2 separate regions of the Homo sapiens genome follow, and region 1 is linked to region 2. A link means that fine-mapping ties the variant in region 2 to the expression of a gene that starts in the linked region. Tissue or cell type: monocytes. Region 2 holds a variant in brackets; the other region holds the start of a gene. All regions are shown on one strand. Distances are between the middles of the regions.

What was found. PIP is the estimated chance that this variant, and not a neighbour inherited with it, causes the effect.
Region 1: HEATR5A starts here. The variant in region 2 is fine-mapped to the expression of HEATR5A in monocytes (Quach 2016, PIP 0.95).

Annotation. Positions count from the first base shown.
Region 1 is chr14:31,418,177-31,422,418 of GRCh38, forward strand. HEATR5A (HEAT repeat containing 5A) reads right to left here and starts at 2,374. Exons shown (of 36, transcript NM_015473.4): 1 at 2,296-2,374. It overlaps HEATR5A-DT (HEATR5A divergent transcript), which reads left to right and starts at 2,582. Exons shown (of 4, transcript NR_110045.1): 1 at 2,582-2,801; 2 at 3,668-3,792. RefSeq lists a silencer at 1,835-1,954 and enhancers at 2,065-2,114, 2,545-2,694.
Region 2 is chr14:31,482,558-31,486,799 of GRCh38, forward strand. GPR33 (G protein-coupled receptor 33) reads right to left here. Exons shown (of 2, transcript NM_001197184.3): 2 at 318-1,414. The coding sequence starts at 1,408. The coding sequence ends at 407. Among named protein-coding and RNA genes, the nearest start is that of GPR33, 3.4 kb to the right of the region's middle. The variant T/G (reference allele first, on the strand shown) is at 2,394.

The DNA.
Region 1 (4,242 bases), 64 kb before region 2:
CCAGCCTGGGCTACAGAGCCAGACCCTGTCTCGATAAAAACAAAAACAAACAAACAAACAGAAGAATTAAAACTGAATTTAATCTATTTCCTCCTACAAAAGATTTAGTGATTAAGCACTTAAGAGCTCTAGTTCAGGGGTCCACTAATTTTTTTCTGTAAAGGACCAGACAATACTCTAGGCTTTGGGAGCCATACGGTCTCTATCACAACTACTCAAAAACAAAACATGCACAGCCATAACGAAGGAGCATTGTTGTGTTCAATAAAACTTTTATAAAACTGCCAGCAGAGCAGATTTGACCCACAGGCTGTAGATTGCTGAGCACTATTTTAATTCAAAAATTTAACACTAGAACTAGACAAGGGATCTAATTAAGTGACACAGGCAAGTCTTTACTAAGTTTTTTGGCCCCAGTTAATTGATTTCTCAAATGAGATTTAATAACAGTTTCTCAATGTCTCCTGAAAAAGCAGAAGTGTTATTTATATGAGGACTGTGGTCTCATTAAAGGATTGTTCAAACTCTTCAATTATACTATGGGATAATTAATGAACCACACAAGACTCAATAGAGCTTTTTAAAAAAATGCAGATGTCATTAAACGCTTAATTCAGAATAATTTTAGAATTTAAAAAATTCAGAATTTAACCCTTATGTTATTCATAGTTAAGAAAGACTATTATAAACTACCTCAACCTTTTTGAAACAAAGCAAGAAGAAAGGTAAGTGTATTGGTTAAAGACAAGTAAAAAAATAATTTTTTTCTGTAGATAATATATTCATTAGTTTAATGTAGTTAATTTTAATTAATAATTTAAGAATTAAAAAGGTACTTTGGAGTCATGTATTTTCTGTGACTAAAGTCAGATACAATAATGAATAATACTAAAAAAGTGACCTAATCTAACATCCATAAATAGTGGAGGGAACTTAAGCTAGAATTCAGGTCTCCTGACTTTCAGGTGAGGAGTCTTTTCTTATTCTCCTATTCTATAGTCATCTAGGTAAAACAACTGCATTCCAAGGCACAACAAATCCATACTACAGTATTCTCCAACTGTCACTATTCTTATATTATAAATCCTGCCTGCTTATCAGTGAAGAAAAAAAAAAAGTCAATGGCATTAAAATGTAACACAAATCTCGGCTTCGATACTTTATCTAAAATTACTTTCTCAAAGACATACTTTCTAAAATGTTTGGAAAATTAAACAAAATTCTCCTCTCCCCATCCAACTAATGCTCAATTCTAACCACACTTCTGCTTTCCCTACAGCTTAAGTAATTTCACTGGGAGTATTTTCTCTGGAAGTTCTTAAGTGTACTTGTGGGCCCCTTTTTTTCCTCCTTAAACTTCTAATATCTTTCAGGCTGTAAATTCCTTAAGGGCGCCTAGCCCCAAAAAAGTGCTGCATATTTGTTCAATAAATGAATGCACATAAAAACAATGGATAACTATGACCTTTAATGTAGGAGCTCAAGCCATTTTATTATTATCTGACTTGACAGTCAAGAAAATTATCCCAACTTGCCAGAGGTATCCATTACTGTGATAAATAAACACTATAAAACGCTTTATAAAGTTTCTAAAGACTTTATAATCACTTGAAATAACGCCGCGTTGGCCGAGAGTAGGGTGAAAGAAAATGTTTCCTCACACTAAGCAAATGCCACCAAAGGAAAAGCTTTCTTTCCTGGAGAGAACTGCAACAGTTAGAAAGCAAATATCCACACTCTCCACTGCTCCCTTCTGGGAACTCTCTTTGAGGGTTCCTGCAGAAAACGAACGGGCCTCTGAGGAAGCTCGCCCGAAGGCCGGGCCGGGGCCCGGCTCCTGGCTGACCACTGGCGCAGCGGACGCCGCAGGGCGGGTCCCGGGAGCGGCGAGTTGGCGAGGCGGGCTCCGACTTGCTGACCTTCCCCACACGCCCGGCAACCCCGGCTCCCGCTGGCGGGCAGAGTCCACGCCTACCTGTTGTGCACAGGTGAAGCCAGACTTTCCCGTAGTCCAGGAGGAAGAACGGACCACGCTGTTTATCAGCCGACCCTGTGCCCCAGTCAGCCCCTTCTCGGCGGACTCCAGCCCTTAGGGTCAAGACACCTAGCCCCTCGACCGGTTCTCCCACCGGCTTCTTTCGCGATCACATTGCTGCCGCGACCACCCTCGGGATCCCCGAGCGCTCAACTCATACAGCGGCCCTGGTGCGTTCTCCTTCCCAGCCAACAGGCAGCCCAGACACAGCCCCCTCGCGCCCGGAGGTGTCCCCGCTCCCTGGATCCCCGACTGCCTGCCTTTGGGGGTCCTCCTCAGCTGAGCGTGCGTCCCGGTCCAGCAACGTTACCGGCTGCTCTGCTAACCCTAGCAGAGTCTGGAATTGCCGGCGGCGGCGACAGCGAGGCATTGAGGTGGGCGGGGCGCGCGTGGGGCGTGGCCGGAAAGCTCTCAGCGGCGAGCACCGCGGGAGCTAGCGATTGGGAGCGCGCCCTGCGCCGGGCCGCTGGTCCAAGGCCCCGCCAGCTGGCCGCCGAGCCATCGAGCGCCCACTCTGGCAGGCGTGACTGCTTCACCGTCGAAAGAGCGATGGAGACTGCGGCCCAAGTTAGGATTAGGACAGCGGTTTTTCAGTCCGGAGATTCCGGCCACAACTATTTTTGTCTGTTTTTATCGTAAGCCAGAGTCTTTGGGTGCAGCTCTGGGACACCTAAAGGGCCTGGAGAAATTCAGGCGGGGCCAGTGCTGTGGGGGTAGATGTTAGACGTGGAAGGGACCCTAGAGAGCCTTGACTGTGAGGACTGAGGTAAAGTGACTTGCTCAAGGTCACATACTAAGTCAATGGCAGAACTGAGACTAATAGCCTCTTACCTTGAGTCATGTGCGTTTTCCCACTACACTCAGCGTTTTAAATGTCATTTTTCAAGTTTCATTTTGAATCTATCTCCAGCTTACAAAAAGGTTGCAAGTATAGTACAAAGAACTTTTTTTCCCTGAATTGAGATTTAAATTGCTGACACCATGCCACATTGTCCCTAAGCACCTTCTACATAATCACAATATAACCATCAAAATCAAAACATTTACATAACTCGGCGTTTTACCAATTGTCCCAATAATATTGTTTATGGTAAAAGATTCCGTTCAGAATCAGGCATTGTATTTACTTATCATGTATCTTTCCTACTCTTCAAACTGGAACTCTCAGTCTTGCCTTGCCTTTCATATTCTTGACGCTGTTAAAGATTCCTGGCCAGTTATTTTTGTAGAATGGCCTTCATTTTGGGTCTGTCTGATATTTACTCATGATTACATTTAGCTAGGTATGACAGGACTCTAGAAGTGTTGCTGCTTTCTTCTCATGGCACCCTATCAGGTGGCACGATTTTAACTTCTCTCATTACAGATGTTTACTTTAATAAGGTGATGTCTGTTAGGCTTGTCCAGTGTGGTTACTTTTTTCCCCCCTTTGTAAATTAATAAGTATTTTGTGAGGGAGACTCTGAAACTCTCCTTTCAAGATATTTGTAAATATCTTGTTTCTCATCAAATCTTCAGTTAATGTATTTATATTAATTAGTATGGATCCAGAGGTTTCTATTTTGTTAAATGACTTATAATCCGTTTCTTTCTCTCTTTTCTCTCTCTCTTTTTTTTTTTTTTTTTCTTGAGACAGGGCCTCCTTTGTTGCCCAGGCCGGAGTGCAGTGGCTATTCACAGGTCGATAATGCAATCATGGTGCACACTACAGCCTTGAACTTCTGGGCTCATGTGATCCTTCTGCCTCAGCCTCCCAGGTAAGTAGCTGAGACTGCAGGCATGCACACCACCACACCAGCCAATATTCTGTCTCTATCATTATTTATTTTGATGCTCAATTATCCCAAGTTTGGTGGGTAGGGGCCCCATTCATTCTATCTTCTGTGATATGTGTGTGTGTGTGTGTGTGTGTGTGTGTGTGTGTGTTCAATTTTTTTTTAAGACAAGAAGACAAGGTCTCATATTCATTCTAGCTTCTGTGTTGTGTGTGTGTGTGTGTGTGTGTAATTTTTTTTTTTTTGAGACAAGAAGACAAGGTCTCACTCTGTCACCCAGGCTGGAGTGCAGTAGTCTGATCACAGCTCACTGCAGGCTCAACCTCCTAGGCTCAGGTGATTCTCCCACCTCAGCCACTCAAGTAGCAGGGACAATGGGTGTGCCACTGTGCCTGGCTAATTTTGTTTGTTTGTTTTTGTTTTTGTAGAGAC
Region 2 (4,242 bases):
TCATAAAAAAAATAAAATAAAAAATAAAAAAATTAGCTGGGCATGGTGGTGTACACCTGTAGTCCCAGCTACTTGGGAGGCTGAGGCATAAGAATCACTTGAACCTGGGAGGTGGAGTTTGCAGTGAACCTAGATTGCACACTGAACTCCAGCCTGGACGACAGAGTGAGACTCTGCCTCAAAGAAAAGAAAAGAAAAGAAAAGAATCACATTTGCAGCATGATCTTGCAAATTGCTTGTTTTCTTGCAGCCCTTTTATTGCTCAGAAATCTAACTATAGTACAGCCTAGTTATCTCTCTAATATAGGGACTATAGCATACAAAAGCAGAAGGTATATCCTATTGGTATAATTGACCAAGTGCGTGTTTGCTTAAGAATCTAGAATTTAAATTTAGGCTTCTGAGTTTAGGTTTGTGTCCTTTCTACAGAAGAATCTTCACTAAATGTTGACTCAAACAGAGCAAGAATGGACTTCTTGAAGACCTTTTTGAAATTCTCCCCAACAAATAAGTAGAGTGTGGGAGAAAAGATAGTATTGAAAGAAGTGGTTAGCACTGTAAGTATCAAAGTCAACTCTAAAAGTAGTGACTGGTTCGTAGTGAGAAGTAAGCCCTGGTGTATATGGTAGGGCATCCAACACACAAAGAAAGAGATAATGGCAGTCATCATAACTTTGAAGGGCTTGCTGGATTTAAACAGGCTCCTCTCTTTCACCTTGCTGGCTACTCTTTCATAACAAAAGATGATGATGAAGAAAGGCAGAAGAAAGCCCAGCAAGAAGCGGCTGATGAAACAGGCCACATGAATCCACTGCCTTGATGCTTGCATCTCCTTGCTTTCCCAGTTAGTAGACACAGCATAGTTATTTTGGCAAGTCACCTTTCCTTTACGGTCATGATGTGTCTCTCTGAAAATCAAATAGGGGATGCTGAGGGCAGCGGCTGAAATCCAGACTCCCAGGACAATGCTGGAAGCCCAGCGCGGGGTTCGGTGCTGCTGGGACCACACTGGGTGAAGAGTGAGAAGGTAACGATCAAGACCGATGGCCGAAAGGAAGAAAACAGAGGTGAACATCCCCAGAGACAAAGTGCCATTGAAGACCTTGCACAAGGCAGTTCCAAAGTTCCAGTGATTGTCTTGAAGTTGGGAGGTGGCCATAAATGGCAGAATCATTGTTGAAATAAAATAAGAGAGAATGAGATGAAAAAATAAGAGAGTATTGACAGTCTGTTTCATCTTGAATCTTAGCACCCATAGATAGAGGCCATTGGTGATGGTACCAATTATAGATGAAATGTACAAAGAAAGGGCAATAATCATTTTTGATGCAGGAGCTAGAAACTGAGTGCTGTTTCTTACTAAAGTAGAGGCATTGATCAGGTAATCAGTAGAGTTGATCAGATCCATAATGACCTGTGGAGTGAGAAACAGTGAAAATAACAACAAGAAAAAGCAAAAGAAAAGGTTAAATGTAAAAATTTAAAGAGTAATTTTTTACATAGTGATACTTCTAGTCCAAATGATAATATTTTAACAGCAGTAAGCAAAATATTTCTGCAAATCAAATATTTTTCTAAGGTCTATACTTTTATGTTTTAATGAGGAATTAAGATCAGATGAATCTGAGCATCAAAAATAGAAATATATGGATGAAATGAAATAAATGTGAAAAGAAGTAAATGTTGGGACATTTTGACAATTGTTCAATAATTAGGTAGTTAAAAATCTATTTTTTTTTTCTGAGATAGGATCTCACTCTGTCACCCAGGCTGGAGTGCAGTGGAGTGATTACAGCTCACTCAGCCTCAACCTCCTGGGCTCAAGGACTCCTCCTGCCTCAGCCTCCCAAGGAGTTGGGACTACAGGTGCACACTACCAGGCCGGATAATTTTTTTGTTTGTTTGTTTTGTAGAGATGGGGTCTCACTATGTTGCCCAGCCTGGTCTTGAACTTTTGGACTCAAGTGATTTTCCCGCTTGGCCTCGCAAAGTGTTGGGATGACAGGTGTGAGGCACTGCGTGTGGCCAAAAATCTTCTACTTGGACGTTAACCAGAAGTCTGACACTTTTTGATGGGCAAAACTTCTTGAATAAGGCAATGTAGAATGAGTCTTATTTGACTTGTGAGGGCAAAAGTAGCTAATGAAATGAATTTGAATAACAAAAATAATAGCAATGTTGCAAATTAGTAGTTATGGGTTTTATAATTAGATTTCTCTCATGAGCTAATTATATATAGTAAATACTATTGTCTAGTATTCTAATACTCAGCACATAACAGTAATAACTAATATTCATATGGGAGCTGTAAGCCACTGCAAGATTGTGAAGTACCTTCAGAATCATCAACAAAAGAGGGAAGTGTATTGTAAGATGTAGTAATTTTTTTTTTT[T/G]TTGAGTCAGAGTCTTGCTTTGTCACGCAGGCTGGAGTGCAGTAGCATGATCTTGGCTTACTGCAAACTCTGCTTCCTGGGTTCAAGCTATTCTCCTGTCTCAGCCTCCTGAGTAGCTGGGATTACAGACACTTGCCACCACGCCCGGTGAATTTTTGTATTTTTGGTAGAGAGAGGGTTTTGCCATGTTGGCCAGGCTGGTCTCAAACTCCTGACTTCAGGTAATCCATCCACCTTGGCCTCCTAAAGTGCTGGGATTACAGGCGTGAGCCACTGCGCCTGGCCAAATGTAGTAATATTAATAGTTCATTCTTGAGGAGGGGACAAAAAGGAGAAAAGTCACCAAACTCATATTTATCCAATATTTGTGGTATGCCAGGAACTTTCTATAAAAATCATTTCTGGCCGGGCGCGGTGGCTCATGCCTGTAATTCCAGCACTTTGGGAGGCCGAGGTGGGCGGATCACAAGGTCAGGAGATCGAGACCATCCTGGCCAACATGGTGAAACCCCGTCTCTACCAAAAATACAAAAATTAGCTGGGTGTGGTGGTGTGTGCTTGTAGTCCCAGCTACTCGGGAGGCTGAGGCAGGACAATCGCTTGAACCTGGGAGGCAGAGGTTGCAGTGAGCCGAACCGAGATGGTGCCCCTGCATTCCAGCCTGGTGACAGAGCGAGACTCTGTCTCAAAAAAAAAAAAAAAAAATTCTGTTTTTCCTTGCAAAGCCTGTGAAGCAAATCTTTGAACAGAGGGGAAAGTGAGGCTTCGTAGGGTTACATGTCTTATCCATCAATATTTCCCACCATGCCTCCATTGTACCAGGTGGGAAACTCTACTACTGTTTTATATTACTTCTTTGAAACTCAGTAATTCATATGTAGTGTTTTTAATAATGCTCAGATGATTTAGATAATCAGAGTGTTTGATTATCTAAAATATCCAATTTCTTGGATAATGGATCCCATGGTATCAAAAATATAAACCTGAGAATATTTTGGAAAATAGCTGTTATAACAGAGTCATATCAGCAAATTGGTTTTAGATAAATTGGATAAAGCAATGGAAATTACTAATGATGCTTTTTTCCTCACTAAACAAAAACATTCTAAGAATATATACAGAGAAGTAAGATAATTGCTATTTATTTTATTTTTGTTTATTTTTTAGAGACAGGGTCTCTCTCTGTCACCCAGGCTGGAGTGCAGTGGCACGATCCTAGCTCACTGCAGCGTGGAACTCCTGGGCTTCATCAATCCTCCCGCCTCAGCCTCCAGATAGCTGGGATCACAGGTGTGCAGCACCACATTTGGCTAATTTTAAAATTCTTTGTAGAGAAAAGGGTCTTGCTGTGATACCCAGGCTGGTCTTGAACTCCTGGCCTAAAGTGATCCTCCCACCTCAGCCTCCCAAAGTGCTAGGATTAGAGGCATGAGCTGCCGTGCCCAGCCATAATTGCTATTCAAAAATCACAACTTCCTAAGTTAATTCTGCCTTCTAAGGGAGTTGCAAAATTTTTCTCTAAAGTAGAAAAATGATTCTTCATGAAAATACCTTAGTAGTCTTCTTTGGGAATAAAAAGTGGAGTCTGAAGCATATGAAATGGACAGGCAATGGCAAATAAAAGAATGAGAACTTGAGAGAGAGGTTTTGTGAAGGCCCTGGGACCTTAAGAAGAGGGTGGAAGACGAGGATGATTTTAAGACAGGCAGCACAGAAAAAAACTCAGCAGGATGTTAGGAGCCCTACAGAGGAGAAAGGGTCAATGAAGTATTCTGAGAAGCAGAAATGACACAGGGGATTTAAAAATAGGAATGTCTAATAATTATAATCTATTTGCTATGCTTTGATA